3 separate regions of the Homo sapiens genome follow, and regions 1 and 2 are each reported to be linked to region 3. The links are microRNA targets in miRTarBase. Many come from high-throughput screens and were not tested one by one. Region 3 holds a microRNA gene; each other region holds the end of a gene's coding sequence.

Region 1 (8,036 bases), not on the chromosome of region 3:
GAAATTTAAGCCTTCCTCTCCACACCCATAAACTAATACTTTCAAGAGACCAGCATAATTTTATGGTTGTGAAAACAGTAATTCAGAGGTTAATGACCTGTTTGGAGCTAGCTATGGTGGAAGTTGTTGTAAGTGTAGAATGTTTCCTACCATATCTCACTGTAGGTAGTACCCAAATATCTAGGATTAATGATGTTTACTGTTTGAATTTGCAGTATTACTTCAACTTATACAATAGGTACATAGCTCAAAAGTGAATATAGCTCTGAGTTCTAGAAATTAAAAAGCTTTACCAAAGTCACTATTTAAGGGAGACCTACAGGAATTCTTTCTCAAATTAAAAAAAAATACTATAAGTAATTTTCCCATCTTTACTTTTTTTTTGTTTTTTAAAATAAGGGCAACTCTAAAATAATTCCTATTTGCTTTACATAATTCTTGGGAGACTGATAATTCACCACAATGTGATTACAAATAGATAATCCTTGGTGCTTCTATTAGGGAGTTCAAGAACTGAATGACTGGCTGGAGGTCGCGGTCTTTTTGGGGAAATGAGTTAAACAGGCATGATGGGATTAATTTGGATGAACTTATCAGACAATTTAAATATTGCCCACTTGATATAATGGAAAGATGGTTCTCACTTGAAAGAAGATTAAATGCTGTATTTAATAGAAATGACTCAAGGTTAGAAGAGAGTAGGTATGCATATGACTAGACATAAGTGAACACTTTAATACATTAGTCTAAATTACTTAAAACTTAGCATACTTAATCATGAACAGAGGAGCATTAAAGAGTTACGTCTGTTAACATCGAATACTCCTTTATGGAGTTTAAAAGAAAAGCAAATACTATTAAAAAAAAATTTTAATGAGAGACTTGTGCTTGATATGTTACAAAATCTAAGAATTCTGAAAGATTTTAAATAAAAATTAGAAATGTGGTGATGTTTAAGGTTTAAAACAACAGCTTGGGAAATGTTAAGTATGTGTCATTACTGAGAATAATGTAATAATACACATTGTGGGAAAGACTGTTGGGATGTTTCCATATTTATTGTTTTACTTTTATGTATGTAGATTTAACTCCAGCTAACAACAAACTTAAATGTCACAGCAGATAAAAACTGTTTTGTTTGTTTCACCAAACTATATAGAACAAGCTGCAAGTTCCTGACATGAGAAAAAAAACTTTAGCAACACGAGCACCAACTTTAATTATGATTTTCTACAGGAGAACATAGTAAATTACCAATACAACTTAAACATTTAAAATATATTTTGTGCATATTGAAAGTGTGTGGTCTTATTTTACACATTTTCAATTCCAGAGAGATAGTTGTATTTTTAGCTGCTTTGTAAAATCACATTTGCTACACATTTCTAGGAAAAAAAAATATCAAAACCCATTTGACTGATTTTCTCTCTGTCCTTTGAGACTGTAGTCCAATATATTACGTAAATTCCTGATTTTCCTTGAATGGCTTAGCCAGTTTCTGAATGTCCTTAATAGTCTGAGATCTATTTCACAACCCTGACAAGTTCCAGGCTCCCAAAAGTAGAGCTGGGGAATAATTAAACCATGGCACCGTGTGGGGTATGTTTCCCGATGCATATATTTTCCAAAAATAATTTTTGAACTGTCTGTTTTATATTATCCATTTAAAAATTCTTTACCCCATCATTAGTGAAGAAAAAAGTCTTGATAAATATTTGAATTTTTACCATCTATATTTTATTTTCCTAATTCTGATATTTTAAAGCCTATTCTATGCAGCTTATAAAATTTTGATGTATTCTATGTAGCTTATAAAATAACTCAATTTTAAACCAAAGTTTTCTTATCTGAGCTATTTGGAAATTCTTTTAATATATAGTAAATACGAATTAAACACGTAAAACACATACATATTGAATTGAAATGGCCTCCAAACCTAAAATGATTATTAAAAAACCATCATATATATTTCTCACTAGAAAATCTGATAATAAAATGATATATAATATAGATCTGCAACTGAATATATAACAAAAACTAGCAAGGATATAAATACACTCACCTTTTCCTCCTTTCCCTATCCTCTGGTCAAGTGGTACTTAGAAGAATTATTTGGGAATGAATACCAATATATTTTCAAGAGAGGTTGTTTCCAAATTCCTCATGTTAAGTTATTCAAAGAGCAAAAAATTTTTTATTTTTTTGTAAAGTAAAAACAAACAAAAAAAATGAGCAAAAACTTCTACTCTTATTCTATGGCCCTAGAAAGGAGCTCTTCCTTTCCTTCTCACTCCTCTGATATTTTAGAGGACCTCTGGTTCCTTCCCCTAGTCTATGATTCAAGAGTTTTCCACATTTCTATCTTAAAAATTAAAGCGGTGAGCTCATCTACACTGCACAAGCACAGAAGATCAGAAACATACTACATAGGGAGAGTTGGAAGTAGGCAATAATGAAATGCATTATCTGTAGGTAACTTAAAAATAACAAAACAAAAAATTGGCCTTTTTCTTGTCACCATACATCAGACTTAAACGTTATCAGTCTAATATATTCCTCCTCTCGGAGGCAGAGAGCTCCTACTACACCCTACACTCCCTTTGGTGTACCACTGAAGGAGACTCCATTTCAGTCTCCCGGCTTATTTTATAAGATAAACTCACTTCAATCAAATTAGTTCATAAAAAACCCCACCACCTTTATGTTGTATCTATTTTGGTACTTACTGATTTTCTTTGTGCCCAAATCAATGTTTTGTGTAGTTTTATATCCAGTTGTCAGGAAAGCAAGGATAAATACAGGACTACTAAAATAACACAGATTATGAGAAAGCAAGATATTTAAATAAAGCACCAGGCTGCAACTTTTTCAAGGAGGTTAATTAAAACTAAATTATAAGGCTGAGGCAGGAGGATCACTTTAACCCAGGAGTTCAAGGTTACAGTGAACTATGATTATGTCACTGCACTCCAGCCTGGGCGACAGAGGGAGACCTTGTCTCTAAACAAACAAACAAACAAACAGAAAGCAAAACTAGAGTAGAGTTTACAAAGTCCTGAAATTCAGGGTTGCATTTGGGGAAATGGAAAGAAGGGGACACAAGTTAGATGAAAAGGTAAGAAAAAAATGTCACATTGTATTTACCATTTAATTAAAATTGTAATAAAGGTATATAAATTAAATGAAATTAATTTTTAAAAGGGAATGGGTTAGTCAATATTCCAGTGGGTACTTTCTTATTCAATGCTCGAATACTGAGCTAAATATACTTTTAGAAGCAAAGTTATTAGACTTCAAGATGTCTTTCTATTTAGACTGAAGAAATCAGTGAGTGTGTAATAAAGTTTACAAAGCTCTTCCCATAAAATACATGATCTCATTTGAGCTCTCAACAATCCTATGAGGCAGACACTATAACACAGTGAGAGGTAGTATATATCTGAGGATAGAATATTGGCTCTACCCCATAGCAATTGTGTGAGCTTGGGAATATTACTTAAATGCTTTGTATCTTGGTTTCTTCATATGAAAAATGGGGATGACAACTATCCCTACCTCATAGCTGTTGTGGGATTAAATGAGAGAATGCATATAAACACTTTAATATAGTGCCTGGTCCATAGTAAGTGCTCAATAAATGCTGGCTATTATCATCATTATTCTACAGGTAAAGAAACACTATCAAAGATTAAGTTCAAAGTCATATGATTGCTAAGTGGCAAAGCTAGAAGTAGAAATTCTAGTCTAGATATATTCCCATTACCCTGTATTACCTATGAATATCTTTTTTTTTTTTGAGACAGAGTCTTGCTATGTTGCACAGGCTGGAGTGCAGGGGTGTGATTTCGGCTAACTGCGGCCTTGACTGCCTGGGCTCAAGCAATTCTCTCACCTCAGCCTCCCCAGTAGCTGGGAACACAGGTGTGTGCACACCCAGCTAATTAAAAAAAAATACATATATTTGTACAGATGAGGTTCTCACTATGTTACTCAGGCTGGTCTCAAACTCCTGGGCTCAAGTGATCCTCCCGCCTGAGTCTCCCAAAGTGCTGGGATTACAGGCATGAACCACCGTGCCCAGTCTGAATGCCTACTTTTAATTAGAATATGTATTATCCTTTTGCACTATTTTTAAAGTATACTTCTTGCAGCTGAAAAATGACATTTGAGTTTGGCAGTTTCAATGGCATTATTAACATCACTTCTTTTAGTGGGAACAGAAGTTAATGACAGGCATTAAAAAGAAAGTGGTCTCTGAAGAATTAGGATGGAGACCACAATATAGGTTTAAAAGATTTAGCTTTGACTTTTCTTTAAATCTTCAGAAAAATGGAAATATAGTTCATTAGTTGGTAGATGGCAGAAAGAATGTAAGCTCTGTGAAGGTAAGGATATTTGTTTACTGCTGTATCTCCAGACTCTACAACAGTGATTGGTACACAAACATATGTTTAATGAATAAATATTAAAGTGGACAAAAATCAACTTTAAAACGTCCTTAATAGTAGGATTCATTTTGCTCTGACATAATTTCCTTTCTAGTATTAACTATTTATAACTAAAAAGTCTAGCATATAGTCATCTAACCATAAAGTAGGGGATTTTTATTAAAAGATTAAGAGTAAGAAATAAAAGACTAAATAAGGCCTTGAATAGCTTTATTGAAATCTATATAAATAAACATGCACATTTCAAATGTAAACTCAAGTGAACTCAAGTGCAGACAAAATTTTAACCTCTGTCATGCAGGAGGTTAGTTTACATTAAAAAAAAAAAAAAGAAAAAAAAAACCCCAAAGCAGCTTTTAAAATACCAGGATGATAAACCAGCTTTAATATCAAGATATAAAGCAAAGCCATGATCAACATACCTCATTTATCCTGGTCAAATGCATTTTTTTTAAACTTTTAAATGCTAACATAAATAAATAATTTACCAAAATGTGCACTCACAGAGTGAACTTTTATTTACAATACACAATTTATAATCTATTGTATTTGATTAGTTCAAGTGAAGAACATTATACTTTTTGCTTTAATAACAGTGGGACACAAAGCAATTTCTCAGGTAGTCGATATGTGAAATGTGCCCCAGCATTTAGGTTTTCTATTAAAGGCAGTATTGTATGCCAATTTACAATACATTCTTTCAACTATATCAAAGGGAAAAAGCAGCAAATAAAAATGTTTCAAATGTTCACACATATTTTTGGCATCCTGGATCCTTGAATGTGGTGAACTAAAATCAAATTCAAGGTGTTTATGCTTTATATACTGTACAGGTTCTGACTCTGGAACATGCAAATGCCATTTCTCTTATAACAAGTTACCTTCTGAGAAAAGCTGTAAGGCTATGGTGAATTCCATCAGGAACACACAAAGAAAGTTAACAGACCTACCTTTATAGCCAATTGTCCATTAATGATTTAAAGGCCAGTATATGAAAAAAATTTCTCATCTAAGCTTGATGCAATTATTACTATGGGTACAGAATACTATTATGTCTGTCCTTATATTACAATAATTGGGAGAGCTCAAGTTGCCAAATTACCACAAAATGGGGTAGAGAAAAACAGACAGCAAAAATTTTAATTTTGGACCAACACCCAATTAAAGATATGCATTTTAAAGCAAAAAATGTTTTTGAATATCTGAAGAATAGATCCCAATAGCAGTAAATAATACTTACATGTAACTGAAAAATGACTTTAGATGGAGTATGAAATCTAGAACCTGTTTCCACAGTGGCAGTAAAATGAATATAATACTCTGGATTTTTAAAGGTATTACAAAGGGAAATAACTTTTCCAAGGTTGTTTCTTGTATCATGATTTGGTTTTTTAATAGGCCCACATTGATTACGGGGATAAATTTGAAAATGCGGTTTTCGAAGAATGCTGCCGCAGTATTTATGCCACATTGATACTGCAGCTAAATATCATAGTAGTATATACGGCAGCCTAATGCACATGAACTAGATTATCCAAAAACTAAGTTCAGCCATAGTTTTCTTGCAGTATTATTAGAGCAAAATAAATGACCAACATCCACAAATTTAACATTTGTCATCAACTCACATCCAAAAAATTAAAGGAAACATAATTAATCAAAACAGCAGCAAACTTAAAAGGGATTTATTTGTGATTTCCTATATATATTTAGCTTGTAAATACAAGACTGTAAATGTATTAAGAGACAATTTCTGTTAAAGTTTTCATTGTGTTTCACTTCAAGTACTGCACAAGTTAAAATCTGATAAAGGATTTACATTCGGTTATCTGAAACTCCCCATCTCAGACTTTTGTTTTAATGTGGTGGGTAACTTCATCATTTCCATAGATACCACCAGCAGGAAAGTGTCTCTTTTATGGCTTCTAGGACTTTCATTAGTTAGTGTGCATACAGTTTTCATTTTCTATATCATTGTCATTATCATTGCTATCTTCATCACTTTCTAATGGGATGCCAGTGGCAGCTGAAGCACCTTTAGTTTCTCGGTCAAGAGGAAAAAAGCCAGTTCCACTGAAAGTGTCTTGTCTCTGGTAGAAGAGTACATATGCTGCTTTGGACTGTCAAAACAAAGGATGTTAAAACAGTTATGATTCTCAAAGATCACGTTAAATACATTATGAATTTTTAGCTGGTCACCAATTTTGGTAAGAGGGCATAAATCAAATAGAAAAACCATGCATGGTCAAATGGAAGTTACTAAAATTCATTAAATATAAGATGATTTCTAATAAAGAATCGTTATTAGAATTACAAATTTTTATGTGCTTCTAAATTATTTGGACAAAGAAATAAATGCAACTGTATCACAGTTCTAACTGTGATACACAAACTGTATCACAATTCTAACGTAAAAATAGAATTCTATGCTTTCTTTCCTACCATCTCTTAAGGAAAAGGTAAATTCCTCCCTTCTAATACTAGTCACTTCATCCCATGTTTGCTGTAGAGTCCAACTTTTCCTACCATCTTAAGGATGCTGTTCCATCAATCATCACTGTGTATCTTCAATGAGTCCTTATCCACTGGACTTGTCTCTTTGGCATTAAAAAATACCTAAGGTTTTTCCTATCATAAGTCCCTCTCCATTCTACTTCCCCTTCTAGCTGCCATATACCTCTCTTCCTCTTCCTCATAGTCAGGGTGATAAACAGAGTTGTCAATACTCATCATTCACTCTCATGCACACTTCTCAACTCAAAGTAATCTAGCTTTTCCCCAAACCATTCTAGCAAAATGGCTTTCAGCAGGGTCAATAACCTAATAAACAACTGAAATGGGTGACCTTTCCAGTTCTTTTGGTCAATCTCTCAGTAGCATTTAATGCTTCACTATTTCTTTTCCTATCAACAAACAATTTTTTGCTTCTGTGACAACACTACTCAGATCTCCTACTATCTCTTTGGTTTCTTCTCAGGCTCTTCTGTGGACTTATTAAATCCTGACCTTTAAACATACTATGTTCTGTCCTCAGCCCACCATTGTCTCAACCTGAATCCTCTCACTAGGTGACTCATTTAAACCTATGGCTTCAACTGCTGCCTGAGGCTGACAACTCAAATGTATAACCTAAATCAGTTCTCACCCCTGAACTCCTGTCTTATGAGTCCAACAACCTAATGGAAATTTCCACACAGCTATCATACAGGCATCTCAAACTTCAACAGCAACTATTCTTCCTATATTCCCAATCTTGGTGAATGGTGAAGTAAAAGTCATCTTAAACTTCTCCTTCTCTGGATCTCTACATCTATTATCCTTATTATATCTTTTATCAAGTTATATTAATTCTGTCCAGTAAATATCTCATAAATCCATTCTCCCCTTGTTTGTATTGTTCTAACTACTATTTTAATTGCTTAAATTATGTGACAGCCTCCTGTATGGCTTTTCTGTTTCTTTACTCAGTGTCTCCAATCTATCTTCTATGATGTTCTCAGAGAAATGTTAAGATACAAACTGAACAATGTTATTCTCTTGTTTAACAATCTAATGGCTACTCATAGTCTGTAAGAAAATGTCTAAACA
Region 2 (8,028 bases), not on the chromosome of region 3:
TCATGCACAGTCCCAGGGCCATGGGGTAAAGCTTTCCTCCCCTCCCTGCCTCCTGGCTCATATTTGTTCCCCACCTGTCCCTCCGGAGTGGCCCTGTGGTCATTTTATTTATTTATTTATCTATTTATTTGAGATGGAGTCTCACTCTATAGTCCAAGCTGGAGTGCAGTGGCATGATCTCGGCTCACTGCTACTTTCACCTCCTGGGCTCAAGTAATTCTCCCCGGCGGGTGAGCCACTGCACCCGGCCCCTGTGGTCATTTTAAAACAGTCCATACATTCTTTGACTCTCCATTGAAAAGAAGACTTTAATTCCCCTTGAATTCCCTGAATGTGGCTTGCCTTAGCGACTTGTTCTAAAGAGCTGACTATAGCAGAAGTGATGCTGTGTCACTTGGGCCGGCGTAGAAATGATGTTGCAGTTTCCACCTGGCTCTCTCTCTCAGGACGCTTGTCTTTGGAACCCAGCCACTATGCTGTGAGGAAGCCCAGGCCACACGGAGAGGCCATGTGGAGGTGCTGGGCTCACAGCCAGCATCAGCCACCAGACGCGGGAGGGAGGGAGCCTTCAGGGGATCCCAGCCCCCAGGCTTCAAGCTGCCCACGCTGATGCAGAGTGGAGCAGAGACAGCTGCCCCTGAGCCCTGCCCAGACTGCATATTTGTAAGCCAAATAAATGTGATGTGAAACCACCAAGGTTTGACGGCACTCCAGCCTGGGCAACACAGTGAGACCCTGTCTCTTAAAAAAAAAAAAAAAAAAAAAAAAAAAAGGCCGGGCATGGTGGCTCATACCTGTAATCCCAGCACCTTGGGAGGCCGAGGCAGGTGGATCACGAGGTCAGGAGATCGAGACCATCCTGGCTAAAACAGTGAGACCCCGTCTCTACTAAAAATACAAAAAATTATCTGGGCATGGTGGTGCTTATAATCCCAGCTACTCAGAAGGCTGAGGCAGGAGAATCGCTTGAACCTGGGAGGGGGAGGTTGCAGTGAGTGGAGATCACGCCACTGCACTCCAACCTGGGTGACAGGGTGAGACTTGGTCTCAAAAAAAAAAAAAAAAAATTGCCAGGCGTGATGTCTTACGCCTGTAATCCCAGCATTTTGGAAGGCCGAGGCAGGCAGATTATCTGAGCTCAGAAGTTCCAGACCAGCCTGGGCAACATGGCAAAAGCGCATCTCTACTAAAAATACAAAAAATTAGCCTGGTGTGGTGGTGTGGGCCTGTAATCCCAGTTACTCGGGAGGCTGAGGCACAAGAATTGCTTGAACCCGGGAGGCAGAGGTTGCAATGAGCAGAAATCATGCCATTGCACTACAGCCTGGGTGACAGAGAAAGACTCCGTCTCAAAGAAAAAAAAAAGGTTTAGGGTTGTTTGTTACAGAGCCTTAGATGATTGGAACAGGTTGCAGCCTTGGTTGTGGCAGATTTCTGCCCAAAGATAGTTTGTGGGGGACAGTGAGGTTTGACGGGGTTCTTCAGCCTGAGGCCTCTGGGCTATTTGAGATCTCAGGACCTGGATTCCAGTCAGGCCACTCAGCTTTGACACCTATTTCTGCTAACCTTCCTCACTGGAACCCTGCTCTGTCATCTACCCAAGCCTGGCTGAGACTTGTGATGGTTAGGGCAGGCCCTGCCTACATTTGTTTGTGTTTTGTATACAATTTGCATATATCTGCATGATCATATTTTGGTGGATTTTTATTTTTTTTTTTGACAGAGTCTTGCTCTGTTGCCCAGGCTGAAGTGAAGTGTCGTGATCTCGGCTCACTGCAACCTCCACCTCCCAGGTTTAAGCAACTCTCCCACCTCAGCCTCCCGAGTAGCTGGGATTACAGGCAGGCACCACCATGCCTGGGTAATTTTTGTATTTTTTAATAGAGATGGGGTTTCCCCATGTTGGCCAGGCTGGTCTTGAACTCCTGACCTCAGGTGATCACCCGCCTCGGCCTCCCAAAATGCTGGGATTATACGCGTGAGCCACTGCACCCAGCCTTATTTTCGTGGGGTTTTTTGTTGTTGTTGTTTTGTTTTTTTTTGAGACAGAGTCTCGTTCTGTCACCCAGGCTGGAGTGCAGTGGCATGATCTCAGCTCACTGCAGCCTCTGCCTCCCCGATTCAAGCAGTTCTACTGCCTCAGCCTCCCGAGTAGCTGGGATTGCAGGCATGCACTACCACGCCTGGCTAATTTTTGTAGTTTTAGTAGAGACGGGGGTTTCTCCATGTTGGCCAGGCTGGTCTCGAATTCCTGACCTCAGGTGATCTGCCCACCTTGACCTCCCAAGGTGCTGGAATTATAGGCGTGAGCCACTGCGCCTGGCCCATTTTGTGGTTTCTAAACATTTCCAGACACCTCCCATCTGGGACTCTTAGAAGGGACAGGGGCACTGGATGTTACTTGTCTACTCCCCCAACCCCACAGGGTTGACTTGAACAATCACCTCCCCAGGCTGCCCTTGGATGGCTGAAGTTGTTAAAACATCTATGTGTGCAAAGTGCCGTGTAAAGAAAGAGTTTTATATCTATATTTGAGATAGTTCTTTCCTGGGATAATCAGGGAAAGTCAGCAACCTCCCTGGAGATTCAGGATAGGCGCCCTATAGGCCTCAGCGCTCTCTTGCCTGGTTCAGCATCCCTAGCACCGTCACTGGTCCTGACCTGACCTCGGGCCCAGCTATCCACAGGCCTCTTCTGGAAGTGCCTGGCCAGGTACCTTCAGATGTTCTTTTAGGATCACAATCCTGCTTTCAAGTGAAATTTCATCAAGAATCCAACATGGGCTCGGCACAGTGGCTCACGCCTGTAATCCCAGCACTTTGGGAGGCTGAGGGAGGTGGATCACCTGAGGTCAGGAGTTTGAGACCAGCCTGGCCAACAAGGCAAAACCCTGTCTCTACCAAAACTACAAAACATTAGCCAGGTATGGTGGTTGGTGCCTATAATCCCAGCTACTCGGGAGGCTGAGGCAGGAGAATTGCTTGAACTTGGGAGGCGGAGGTTGCAGTTAGCCGAGATCGCACTACTGCACTCCAGGCTGGGCGACAAAGTGAGACTCTGTCTCAAATTAAAAAAAAAAAAAAAAAAAAAAAAAGCCAACATGTAATAAGACAGAAAAAATATGGGAAAAAATATTGAGCTGGTCTGGGTGAGGGTGGGTAGGGAGAGTGAGGAGGCCCTCCAGAGAGCTCCCCCTCACCCCAGCCATAGCCAGGGAGCCCAATTTACCCACTGCTCTCCTGGTACGTTCCTCTCGAAAGGTGCCCCTGGGTTTAGAACCTGGCTTTCCAGGTCTGCTGAGCCTCCTGGGTGTGAACCCAGGCTTTCAAATTCAGCAGTAGCTGCATTATACTGCTGCCTCTTACTAAGCTTGAGGCCAGCTGAGACCTTCGGATCTTTGTCAGCATAACTGCCATTAAGCCCAGCCTCTCTCGAACCTAAGCCATAGCAGCTCCAGGCAACTGGCTTCAGGAGCCTGGACTGAGAGACAATGGCAGAACAGAGAGGCCTGGCCGGAGTCCTGGCTGAGTGCCCTGGAGGGAATCACTCAGTCACAGCCTGTTTCCTCAGCTTCAGAACCGGGAGGAAACCAGTCCTTCCTCATAGACAGTGCGTGAAAAGCACACAGCCCTGCCTGGCCAGCACCTGGAGAGCGCTTAACCTTGGCGGGCTGAGCGAGCAGCCGCCTCGCTGCTGGCCGAGGAGGGGTGGGGCGGTGGTCAGAATGCAGAGCCTGGAACCTGGCAGCCTGGCCTGGATACAGACTCGGATCCTGTGTGAGGATCAGACTGACCAACTGCCTGTGTGGGATTGTGGACATTTCCTTCACCTCTTTTTTCTTGGTTTCATCAACTATAAAATGGAGATGACCAGCCAGGCACGGTGGCTCATGCCTGTAATCTCACCGCTTTGGGAGGCTGAGATGAGCAGATTGCTTGAGATCGGAAGTTAGAGACCAGCCTGGCTAACATAGCGAAACCTTGTCTCTACCAAAAATACAAAAATTAGCTGGGTGTGGTGGCGCACTCCTGTAATCCCAGCTACTCAGGAGGCTGAGGCAGGAGAATTACTTGAACCCAGGAGGCAGAGGTTGTGGTTGAGCTGAGATTGTGCCATTGCACTCCAGCCTTGGCAACAGAGTAAAAAACTGTCTCAAAAAAATAAATAAAATGGAGATGACGGTCACTAGCATATCTTAGTCACAGGGAGGGGTGAGGACTCAGGAACTGCACCTCATGTGGCAGAGAGCTGTAGTGTATAGGGTCTGCTGTTACTATCCCAGGTTCTGGGCCTGTGAGGGCCCTGGCCCACCCAGCACCGCAGCCCCTCCCCCAGGACCTGACACAACCACCCAAAAACTCCAGGTTCACTTTGGCAACAGGACTTTTATTCAGTCAAAATGAGCAGAGTGTGACAAAACCCAAGTAAGGCCAGGTGGCCCCCCAGCCCCCTCCTGCCCCAGCCGCACCCTTCCCAAGGGAGAGGGAGGCTCCCGAGAGAAGCTGCTTTGGGAACAGAGGGGGCACTGCCTTGGAGCTTTGTGGAGCCCTGGGCATCCACACATCATTTGGGAGAAGGGAAGGGACTACCCTTCCCCAAGTCCACGCGGACACAGCTCTAGTTTTCTAGGAAAACACCACAAATTCTATCTTCTTCAGCTAATTAACTAAAGTTCAGGGTGGAGGTGTCCCTAGAGGATTGGGGGTCAGGGATATTTATGGTCTCATTCTTAAGGAATACACTTATCTTTTTTCTTTAAAAAAAGTTTTTCTTCTGCTATTTAAAAAAATGTTTCTGAGTATAACCAAAAATAGGTATTTGTTTCCTTGGTTTTCTTTTCTTCTTCTTTAACTAAGTAGTTCAAAGAACAACACAACAGAAAAGAGTAACAAAAAGTCACAAGAACATAACCCTTAACACACCTTGTATAAAAATAGCTTCCGGCCATGGCTGCTGACAGTGGATGCTCCCCTGTCGAGGGGTGGATCAGGCTGGCTGGGTGCCTGAGGCTGGGGCGCCTCTGCAGGGGACACCCACACCCCCTCACCCTCCCACACACCCATCCCACACATGGTACATTCCAGGGGCCGGGCCTGCAGGACAGGAGGCAGGCGGCCAGCTGATGCCACCCTCCCAAGCCCAGGTTCCTCATGGGCATCCCCATCAAGGATGGGCTGGCTCAAAATGGGAGTGGACAGACAAGACGGGGACAGGCGGTGTGCTGGGAGGTGGCTCGTTTGGACAATTTATACTTCAAGGAACAAATTTCCTCTCATTTTTGGCTGCTTTCACATTTTTTCTCTGCCCAATCCATTTCTATTTCTGTAGGCCACAAGAGTTCCCCTTGGTGGCCCAACCTCTGGCCTCTCCTCTGCAGGAGAGGTAGGTGGGCTGTGGGCAGGAGGGGCGGGGAGGCAGGTCCAGTGACAACACAGCCCACAGAGCCAGCGAGCCTTGAGGTAGACATTTTCTTTCACATCTGGAAATGGGGAAGTGCTTTTTTTTTTCTTTCACACCTGGAAACGGGGAAGTGCTTTTTTTTTTTTTTTTTTTTTTACTCTGGACAACAGTGTGGGAAGGGAGAGGGGGTCCCCAGCAAGGGGACTTGAGGTAGGAGTGCATTCGGGCTCTGTGGGGTAAGGGGGCTGAGGCCACCGCCCCACTGCCCCCCAGGACATTCATTCCGGCTGAGGTAGGTGCTGAGAGCCAAAACAGCAAAAATCCATCCTGAGAAAACAAAGTCGGTGGAGGGTGACAGTGTCAGGGCCCAGCTACAGCAGGGTCATCTTTTGGAGTCTAATTCACCTTCCTCTATCTCTCTCCTCTTTTTTTTTTTTTTTAAGTTTTGCTTTTTAAAGAAAAATGTTAGTTCAGTTCCAAGTCATGTGGGTACCAGGCAGAGGCAAGGGGGCGTCAGCCCAGGGAAGGAACAGGCTCCTGCAGGAACTGCTCCAACTCCTGATGGGTGTTAGGGCCGGGGGGTCCCTGTCAAGGCTGCCTTGGGTTTTGACAACCCAAGAGGCAGTCAGGATAGAAATGCTGGGGAGCCCCCAGGACCATCCAAATCCCACATGACAGTAGAAATCTTGCTTTTGACCTGAGAATGGGCCCCGCTCCGTCCACCCTCTGGAGCCTGCCAGACACTGGCTACTGTTCCGAGTGAGCTGGCTGGGTAACCCGGGCCGCTGCAGGCCTGGAAGCCTGGCCTTCACTGAGGAGGCCAGGGCCTCCATCTGGGGGTGGTGGGGCAGCCGCCAGGCCGGCGCAGGGAGCCGTGGCCTCTGTGGTCTTCGCCTCCGTCGTCTTCCCCTCCATCAGGCCGCACCCCTGAAGTGGCAGCACGGAGAGCTGGGTCTCCTCACACGGAGCGGGGGCTGCAGGATCCTGCTGGGGAAAGAGCCCGTCACACAGGCGTCAGCTTGAGGGCCAGGGCGCCAGGCTCCAACTCACCCCACTTGGGCCTTAGGGTCTCCAGGTCTCCCTGCCTGACTCAGGGACACAAAGAGAAGACCTGCAGTTTGACTAAGGCCAATGATCGAGGCCCGTGGCCAAGGTGAAGGGGGGCAGGATTGGAAGGTGGCAGTGTCAGAGCCTGAGGCGGGGGTTTGTTTAAGACATGGGCACTCACTGTGGGTCTGGGGTCCGGCTGCCCTGCTGCGCTGGCCGGGGGGAACAGCTGCTCCAGCTCCTTCATATCCACACGTTTCTCGTCTCGGCCCAGCTGGCCCCGCTGTCCCCGTCTCGCCCCATTTAGGGCTAGAATGCCAGGGTCCCTCTGGCTCCGGGGACCCTGTGGAGGGGACAGCTGGTTTTCCACATCTTTACACAGGAGGACCCTAAGGGTTAGCCAAGAGTTGGGGGGAGGGAGAGAGAAAAGAGACAGAGGCAGTGAGCCCACACTCACCTTCTCTAGGCCTAGTCCCCCACACACCAGCCCAGCCCCTCTCCCTGGCCCAGGACCCACCTGCCCCTTTGGCCGAACAGGAGGAAGAGGACACAGAAGATGATGCAAGTGACCCCGATGTGGATGCCGATGACGATGCCTGTGGTGGACGTCTGGTTGGCGGCCTCCTCCTTCCGGCAGTCACATGGTGGGCTCAAGGCTGGGGACAGGGACGGGTTGGAGGCTTTGGCTCTCCAGGTCTGAAGCACTCCCAAACACCCAGCCTCTGGGGACTCCTCTTCCTTCAGCTGCTCCCACTCCCAAGTGGGAGTGGGAACATCCTTTGACTTTGCCTACAGGACTCCAGACCAATCTTTTTGGTTCTTTTTACCAGATACTAGGAATAGCATGGACCATTTCATCCTTGCCACAGCTTTGTAAAGTAGGTACTATTATCCCTGTATTATAGAGAAAACTGGGATCAGAGAGGTTAAGTAACTTGACCAAGGTCACACAGCCAGCATGTGCATGGCCAAGCTTCAAACTGTGGTCTAAGCCTGTGTTTTCAAGCGTGGCACATGCTATCTCACCCCATTACTTTCCCGGCTTCCCACCCACTCAGCCCCGCACTCCATCCCCAGCCCTCACCTGTCCTCTCAGATGCTCCCCTCAAAGACACAAAGCGGACTGTGGCATTGCCATCTCCATGCTGGTTGTAGGCGAGCAGCTTCACCTCATACACTGCAGTGGGGTCTGGAGGAAGGCAGGGCGGATGAGCAACTGCCCCTGCCCAACCACGTGCCCTGTCCTAGCCAGGAAAGGGAGGTGACCCCTGTACGCCACCTCCTGGCCCTCAGCGCCGCACTCTGCCAAGCCCCCTAGGCTCTGGGCTGTGTCTGCCTCACCGAGCTGGCTGAGGTTGTAGGAGGAGACGGTTCCAGGCAGCAGGATGGGGCCGGTGAAGGAGGTCTTGCTTGCTGGGCGGTAAAACAGCTTGAAGCCGCCCTCGTGCTGGGCCAGCCGGGGCCAAGGCTCCCACAGCAGCTGCAAGGAGGAGCTGCCCAGGACTCGCACTGACAGTGGGGGTGGGGCAGGGGCTGCAGGTAGAGAAGGAGGCCACGATGTGAGGACCCAGTGGAAGCTCT
Region 3 (7,847 bases):
GACTCCGCCTGCCTTCTCGTTTTTCTAAATGTGTTTGTATACTTTCTGGCACCCCCTCCTTATCTGCCTCGTGTGGGCAGAGGTAAGAGAGGCTTAGTGTGGGGATATTCGTTATGATATTGTATCCAGTGCCTCTCCGGCCCAGGGAATACAAGGATCTGGAATGCATGGGCCTTGCCTTGATGGTCCCGAGCCTGGTCGAAGAGTCAGGAGATAGATATGGAAGGGTGAATCACTCCCTTGGAAGGCAGAGCAGGCCAGGTGCCCAAAGGGAGGCAGGCAGACAGCGTCTGAGTTCAGGGAGGAAGCGGATGGGAAATCTCTGGTGGGAGGTAGAATCTGATCCATCCTCCAAAGGATGGGCAGGATTTAAGTCAATACAGGCAACGGGGAGGAGAATATTCCCTGTGACCTAAGGTAAGGGTAGAACAAGGCAGGGGATGGGGTAGACTGGTTGGCTAGTGTTCTGGTTAGGATTAGGATTGATTGTGTATAAGAGAACATCTTCAAATGATAGGGGCTTAAGTAAGATCATTTATTTTTCTCTCTTTTCAAAGAAGTCTGGAAGTAGGTAGCCTGAGAGAGGTATGGAGGTTCCATGAAATTGTCAGAGATGCAGACACTTTCTAGCTCATTTCTTTGCCATCTCTTGGGTTTGGCTGTCATCTTCAGGAAACAAAAGGCTGCTAGAGCTCCAGCCATCTCATCCATGATTCAAGCAGTAGGGTGGAGAAAGGAGGTGGGGAAGAATGAATCTCCTTTTCTTTTAATGAAATGTGACATGGTCACACCTACACCTATTTACAAGAGAGGCTGAGAAATATAGTCATTCGGCCTTGGGGGAAGCATGGCTTTTCAAATCATAGAAACCTGGCAGCAAATACCTCTCTGTAAGCCTGGTGTGGAATACTTTCCTTGAGGGTTTGACCATCCCCTCCCATACCCAATCATACTCTTTTGCAATAGCTCAGTTGGGCCCTATGCAGTTCCATAAGTCCCAGTTATTTCAGCATTCTTCAAAGAGTCCATCTCTGCTGCATCCTGGGCTCTGTCAGCCACCCCACCATTCTCACATGGGCTCTTCTCAGAAACTTTAGGACCTGTTGAGGCTTCTCTCTCTCTATTTCTACCACCTCTCCAGGTATAAGTAAGTCTTATTATTATTATTGAGACAGAGTTTCACTCTTGTTGCCCAGGCTGGAGTTCAGTGGCGCCATCTTGGCTCACTGCAACCTCCGCTTCCCGGGTTCAAGCAATTCTCCTGCCTCAGCCTCCCGGGTAGCTGGGATTACAGGCATGCGCCACCACGCTTGGCTAATTTTTTGTATTTTTAGTAGAGACGGGCTTTCTCCATGTTGGTCAGGCTGGTCTCGAACTCCCGACCTCAGGTGATCCACCTGCCTCAGCCTCCCAAAGTGCTGAGATTACAAGCGTGAGCCACCATGCCTGGCCATCTTATTATTATTTAATGAGTCCAGACCTCTCTTCTGAATCCCAGACCTGTTTATCCAGCTGTCTCCTGGCCACTTCCCTTGGGATATCTAAGAGAGGCCCCCAAGTCACTAGGCCAGAGACAGTCCTTATCTTCCTCTGCCAATTCAACCCCTCTGTCACTTTCTAGTATTTTAGTGAATGCTGCTTCACCAGCCAGCAAGCCAAACATCTAGAGTCTGCCTTGACTTGACGCGTTTCCTTCTTTCTCTTCTCAGCATTGTCACGGGTCCCTCAGGCCACCCCATTGTTCCAATGCCTGTTGCCCACCTGTGGTCACGCTGCTTCCTCGTTTGTCAGAGGCGCCAGGGCAGCCTCCTAACTAGTTTGCCTGAACCCTTTCTTGCTCCTCTGTGACTCATTTTTCATATGGAATCCAGGCTGATATTTAAAAAAGCACAAACCTAATTATATCACTCCTCATTTTGAAACCTTTCAGAGGCCGTTCATTGGTCTTAATCTTCAGATGAAAATCTTTAACAAGGCCCATCGGAATCTACCTGAATGATCCACTCCTGCTTCTGTTAAGTCTCACCTCCCATCTCTCTTCCCCTCATCTTGGAATTTCAGCGTTTTCTCACGTCCTGAAATGTGAACTTCCCACTTCGGGAGTCTCTCCATTTCTCTTCTGATCTTTCATGCAGGACTATTTCTTGAACAACTCTCGTGTACCAGAGACTATTGCAGGTGCTAAGGTTACAAGAGTGAACAAGAGCTTATGTTTTACTGGACAAACCAGTCAGTAAACATGGAGAATTTGGGGGCAATGGTAAGAACTATATAAGACAGGGTAATGGGATAAAGAGGGATTGCAGTGGTGAAGGAAGGTCTCCTTGAGGAGTGGCCAGGAGCCAGCCATATGAACATCTCGGGGAGGTTCCATACAGAAGGACCGTCAAGTGCAAGATCGCTGGGGAGGGAAGGAGCTTGGCGTAGTTGAGGGACAGAGGGCAGGGCAGACTAGTGGGAACAGAGAGTGAGGGGTAAGTAGAATCACAGACCATCTCAAAGGTACCCCCCACCCCCACTAGGAAGGAGTTGGGTGCACATGGATGCATTTCTAATCTTTGTGATTTCCTTAGACCTGCTGTCTTCCACGGGTTTCTCAGTGGTCCATTTGATTCCAAGTTGGAGTGACAGTCCAGAAGCCTCTATAAGGCAGAATATATCAGAAATTGTACAAGGTAGAAATGCATCGGTATATTTTCAGTGATTATTTTGGGTGACGGGATTCTTATCACTTTGGCTGTTTTCTTTCTTTTGCTGCCTTACCTGTTTTCCTCATTGAGATCTTTTATTTTCACAATCAGAAAATAACTGTGAACATTTTATGTTAGAAAATTGGTTTTGAGTAGTAAGTAGGTTCCCTCTGCCTTGATTAAGAGAGTGGAGCCCTGGGGCATGGCACGCAGGGTCCATGGCGTCGCTTTGAATGAGGCCAGTTCCTGGAGCTTTAGTTTGCAAACTCATACAATCTGGAAGGCTCTGGTGAGGGGGAGGGGTGTGCCAAGCCTCCTCCCCAAGACCCTATGGGTGAGTTTAAAATCTACTGACCCAAAGGATTCAGGCAAAACATTTGCCCTGCTATTGAATGAACCAGTGCTTTTTGTTTTGAAGTCTCCAAGATCCAAATATCAAGTCCAAGTTCTCACAAGCATTCCCCTGCTTTTTGTTTAATTTGTGTGGACCTGACGTGTAGCAGAATGGGTCAGAATACTGGAATTAAGCCACAGGCGGCTTGGGAGCCCAAGAGCTAGAAGGGCACAGTCCTGGCTTGCCCTGGCCCCTGGCTGGTCTTCATCAGCTTCAGTGATGAGGCAGGACCCAGGCAGTTTGTCTTCAGTAAAATCTGTCTCTCAGGGCCTGTCCCTGCTCACAAAGTCCTCTCTTGTCTCAGAAGAAAAGGTAGTTGATAAACTTTTTCATGCTGAGGTGTTAGGCACAAAAAATGTGCCCCTTTTTGAATCACTTTTGTTTTTAAAAAGGAGGCCAGTGCTCAACACCAAAGCATGAAGGGAATTGTTGAGCTTTCCTGTAATCTGTCCCCAAACGTCCTTGGCCACCTCCATTGTCTAAGGGCAGTACCTGCAGCCCCTCATTTCCCAGTGACAACAGGTGGGTCTGCTCTGCCACAGTGTGTGGGCGGGACCAGCACCAGACGCTGAGAAGATGACCACTTACTACTCTTCTTTTCCATTTAAACAGCAGCAGCAGCAGCAGCAGCAGCAGCAGCAGCAGCAACAGCAAACTCATGACTATCAATAGGTTGTGTGAGGAATTAGATCAATGCTTTGGGTTGAAAATTAGAGAAACTAAATCTTGCCAGTCTCAGCAGCCCCCAACCTGAGCCCTTGGTGGTCTCCTATCATCGCTGTCTTCAAAACGATCCCAGACTTGTTTATCAATTTGGTGACACTGTCATTTTGGCAAGGACACCAGACAATTTCCTTGTCTGTGGCTCAGCTTTTGGCCAGATTTTAGAAAACACGGGAGACCTTCTGCATTTATGGGTTCATGTTTTACATTTTAAAATCTTCGTGGCTCCCTCAGCCAACCCATAATCTCTACCCAAGGAATGGCTCTGGATTTTACAGGCTCTTATGAGATGCTGAGACCCTGGTGGTACAAGGGAGGTACAGAGGACGGAATGTGTTGTCAACATGCCAGGATTTCAACCCTTAGGGTTTCTCTGATGCCAATACCCAGGAATTAGTATGAAATGTTTGTTTGAACCTGTGTCTGAACTGTATGACCTGGAATCTATAGTCTTTGCTTTAAAAAAACTTCAATTGTATCCCCAAGATTTCACCAGCACCAAGAAAACATCCCTTGCATTTCAGGAGCAGGGACTGGCCATGGTGCAGCCTGAGGTTGTGGATGTTGATCTTTGGTGCCCGAGAGAAGGCTGTCTGGGATGAAGCCTTCTGACTGTGGTCAGGTCCCTGCCAGTGCTGGGGGCCACATGAGTGTGCAGTCATCCACACACAAGTGGCCCCCAACACTGGCAGGGACCCGGAGTCATCTGGCCCATCCCTCCTTCCTATCCCATCGAGCCACAGACCCCTCTGCAATATGCCTACCACATGTTCATCCTACCACTGATGGGGAACTTATTACCTTCAAGAGAGCCTCTTTTGTTTTTGAAGAGCTAATAGTGAGATCCATTCATGTGTTCTTCAACTCTATTGAGCCTGTCCTATGTACTGGGCACTGTTCTAGAAATGGGGTGCACAGAGATGAACAAGAAAGAGCAGGTCCCTGCCATTGTGCAGCTCACAAGGAGTTGGAGGAAACAGGCAATACACAATACATGCATCACTATGGGTAGTGGAACATGCTCTGCAGGAAACAAATAGGGTGATCCAATGGAAAGTCATCACTGGAGGAATGAGCTGCTCAGGGAAGGCCTCTTCCTTCCATAGTGATGTGGTCTGAGATTTAGAAGACAGGGAAGGACCAGTTATAGGAAGAACCATGGGAAGAAAATTCTAGGAGGTAAAGGGAAGAACCAAGGCCCTGAGTTAGCTGAAGAAAGGAGGGTGGGGAATGCGGGAGAGAGGGATGGGAGCAGGATCGCTGGTGCCTCACAGGCTGTGGTACTGAGAAGGACAGTTGGGACATCATTGAAGGGTTTTAAGCAGAAGAGTGTCATGATTTGATTCATGTTTTGTAAGCTCATTCTGGCTGTTGAGAATGAATTCTGGGGAGAGGCAAGAGTGGAAACTGGGGACCAGTGAGGAGTTTGTGGTCATAGTCCAGACTGGACATGATGATGACACTGAGATGACAATGATGACAATGACAATGATGTTAAGAATACAAACAGCTCACGTAAGTGCCAGGCATTCTTTGAAAAGCAATGCATTTAATCCTCACAAGAACTCTAGGAGGTAGCTGGTGGCTTAGCTAGGGAGGGGAAGTAGAGAAGAAAACAGGTCTCATGACAGGGTTTGCTGATGGGTTAGATGTAGGGAGTTAGGGAAGAATGATTCTAGATGACTCTACGTTTTGGGCTTGAGCAACTGGTGTGTAACTGAATCTTGGACTGAGATGGGGAGACTGGAGGAGGAACAGAAGATTTGCGGGAAGGTGTAGAAATCAGGATTTATATTTTGACCATCAGAGAGGTCAGCAAATCACTTCAATTTAGAAGTCTTTGGCTTAGGGGAGAGGTCTGGGCTGGAAATTCAAAGTCAAGAGTCATTCCTCTATACCGAAGGGTATTCAATGTTGTGGTGCTGAATACAGTTACTTGGGGAGGAGTTGAGAGCAGAAGGCAGAAAAGGGGAACAGGGTTCAGAGCTAAGTCTTGGGCATGCCAGGGGTTAACGAGGGTACAGGAAGGAGAGGAGACTGGGGATGAACAGCCAGTGATGAGGGAGGAATGCCAGGAGATATTGTCACTTAAGAAATTACCTCGGCTGGGCGCGGTGGCTCACGCCTATAATCCCAGCACTTTGGGAGGCTGAGGCGGGCGGATTACAAGGTCAGGAGATTGAGACCATCCTGGCTAACACGGTGAAACCCTGTCTCTACTAAAAATACAAAACAAAATTAGCCGGGCGTGGTGGCCGGTGCCTGTAGTCCCAGCTACTCGGGAGGCTGAGGCAGGAGAATGGCGTGAACCCGGGAGGCGGAGCTTGCAGTGAGCCGAGATCGCACCACTGCACGCCAGCCTGAGCGACAGAGTGAGACTCCGTCTCAAAAAAAGAAATTACCTTGTTAAACCCAACACTGCCCCTCTTTTGTCCATTCACTTCTAGTTGCCTTCATTCATGCCTGATGTGCTGGACTTGGGTTTTATCAAGTTGCTTGGCACGTCCTTAAAGAATTTAAATCTCCACAGTGCCTCCTGGACAATGACTGCAGGGTGACCCCCGTCTCTCCTCTACACGATGACTCTTCAAACAGTTGACGATTGCAGTTTTTCTTTCCTTCCTTCTTTCAGTGGCTTCTCTGGTGCTGGTCCCAGCTGCATAAGCAGGGCCTCTTCTTGCCCTTCTGAAGTTTGGTCAGTGGTTTGGCTTGGCAGGCTGATGAGCAGAGAATAAGGGAAGCCGCTCTCTCTTTGCCACACCATTCTCCTTCCACCCTCTCTAGTTTTTGTGGATTCTAAGTCTGAAGAATGGTGGTAGAATAATTTAATTCATTAGATTGCAAGCATATCATTGACTTCTCTGCACCCCCAGTGTGTTGTAGTGGAAAAACTAGTAGTCTGGGCATCAGGGAATCCTTGTTTTTCTGCACCGGGTCTGCCTGTAACAAATTAGGTAACCTGGGGCAGGTACCCTGGTTTCCTAAAAGCAGAGCAGGCATTGAGGTAGGACCTGAAGTTGAGGTAGGACCTGCACATTGCATGGGTCCCGGAGCCTCTGTTCATGTTCAGGATGTAATTGTGGCATCGAGGGATCCTAAAAGGAGGTGGCCTCTGAGCTGGGCCTTGGCAATGGGGTAGAATTGCAGTAGGCAGAGGGAGCAGAGATGGGTTTTGTGCTTGTAAACGGGCATTGGTTTACTGTCACTGGTGGGGGTAGCAGCTCTTTTGTTCTAGCTCTTCATTTCCATAATGCGTGTTCTTTTTTCATACTTTAGGGGAAAGAAGGAGGAGAACTCTATTATTTCTATGGGGAGAATTCCTCCTAAACCTGAAGATCTTAAAACTAAGCGAATTATTCCCTGTTCATTCTCCACTGATGCAGTTCATGACTGCAATTGCAACTGCCTTTCCCGTCATTTTCTATGGCCAAACTCAGTGTTTTTAAGTGAGCTCTTCTTTTAAAAAACAAAAACAAAAACAAGTCTCCTGATAAATCCGTTTGAAAGACACTAAGTTTTGAAAGTTAAGCAGGCTTTGATCATTCATGGTACATTGTGAATTACCAAGGAGGGAGATTGATATCCTTCATCGTACAATGCACTCCCCTCCTTTTTCTTTTGTATCTGGTGGAGTAAGTCTTCCAAGAGCAATTCTTAGAGAAACAAAGCCTACTCTGTTTCCCTGTTTCTAGAGTTTTCCAACAAGGGTATAAAAAAGCCTCAGACAGCTTACTATTATCCAGTAACCTCAGGTACCTCAGTGGCTGCGTGTTATTCCCTTTAGAAGTCCAAAAACTCACTAGCAGAGCAAGAATATGGATGTCAAAGTGCAGAACTAGACCCTGACAAACTAGCTCTGTGCCTGCCACAAAGCCTCTTAATTAGGAATGCAGTTCATTGAATAACTGTATCAAAGTTAGCTGGAATACCTTGACATGAAGATTCCTTCCACTTACTGAGCAGTTTGTGCCCACTAGTGGCCAGACACAGGCTTTGCTCTAGCTAAAATACCCCCAGGATTACCTGTTGAGAGAGCCGCC

What was found. The annotated mature microRNA hsa-miR-4731-5p reads UGCUGGGGGCCACAUGAGUGUG and lies in region 3 at 4,441-4,462, shown strand. An mRNA with a match to its seed (bases 2 to 7 or 8) in the 3' UTR can be bound and repressed. Matches are read on the target gene's strand: a 7mer-m8 pairs with bases 2 to 8, a 7mer-A1 pairs with bases 2 to 7 and ends in A, and an 8mer does both.
Region 1: miRTarBase lists USP15 as a target of hsa-miR-4731-5p. Seed matches in the 3' UTR shown: 7mer-A1 at 4,048-4,054 and 7mer-m8 at 1,566-1,572.
Region 2: the mRNA of IGDCC3 is a reported target of hsa-miR-4731-5p. Seed matches in the 3' UTR shown: 8mer at 6,038-6,045, 7mer-A1 at 5,220-5,226 and 7mer-m8 at 5,009-5,015.

Annotation. Positions count from the first base shown.
Region 1 is chr12:62,402,725-62,410,760 of GRCh38, reverse strand. It overlaps USP15 (ubiquitin specific peptidase 15), which reads right to left. Exons shown (of 22, transcript NM_001252078.2): 22 at 1-6,568. The coding sequence ends at 6,386. Among named protein-coding and RNA genes, the nearest start is that of MON2, 60 kb to the left of the region's middle.
Region 2 is chr15:65,322,762-65,330,789 of GRCh38, forward strand. IGDCC3 (immunoglobulin superfamily DCC subclass member 3) reads right to left here. Exons shown (of 14, transcript NM_004884.4): 10 at 7,789-7,980; 11 at 7,532-7,636; 12 at 6,965-7,103; 13 at 6,629-6,836; 14 at 4,366-6,387. The coding sequence ends at 6,148. Among named protein-coding and RNA genes, the nearest start is that of RNU5B-1, 22 kb to the left of the region's middle. RefSeq lists an enhancer at 3,074-3,617.
Region 3 is chr17:15,248,281-15,256,127 of GRCh38, reverse strand. It overlaps MIR4731 (microRNA 4731), which reads left to right and starts at 4,432; the gene lies at 4,432-4,501. The region is part of intron 3 of PMP22 (peripheral myelin protein 22); the gene reads left to right.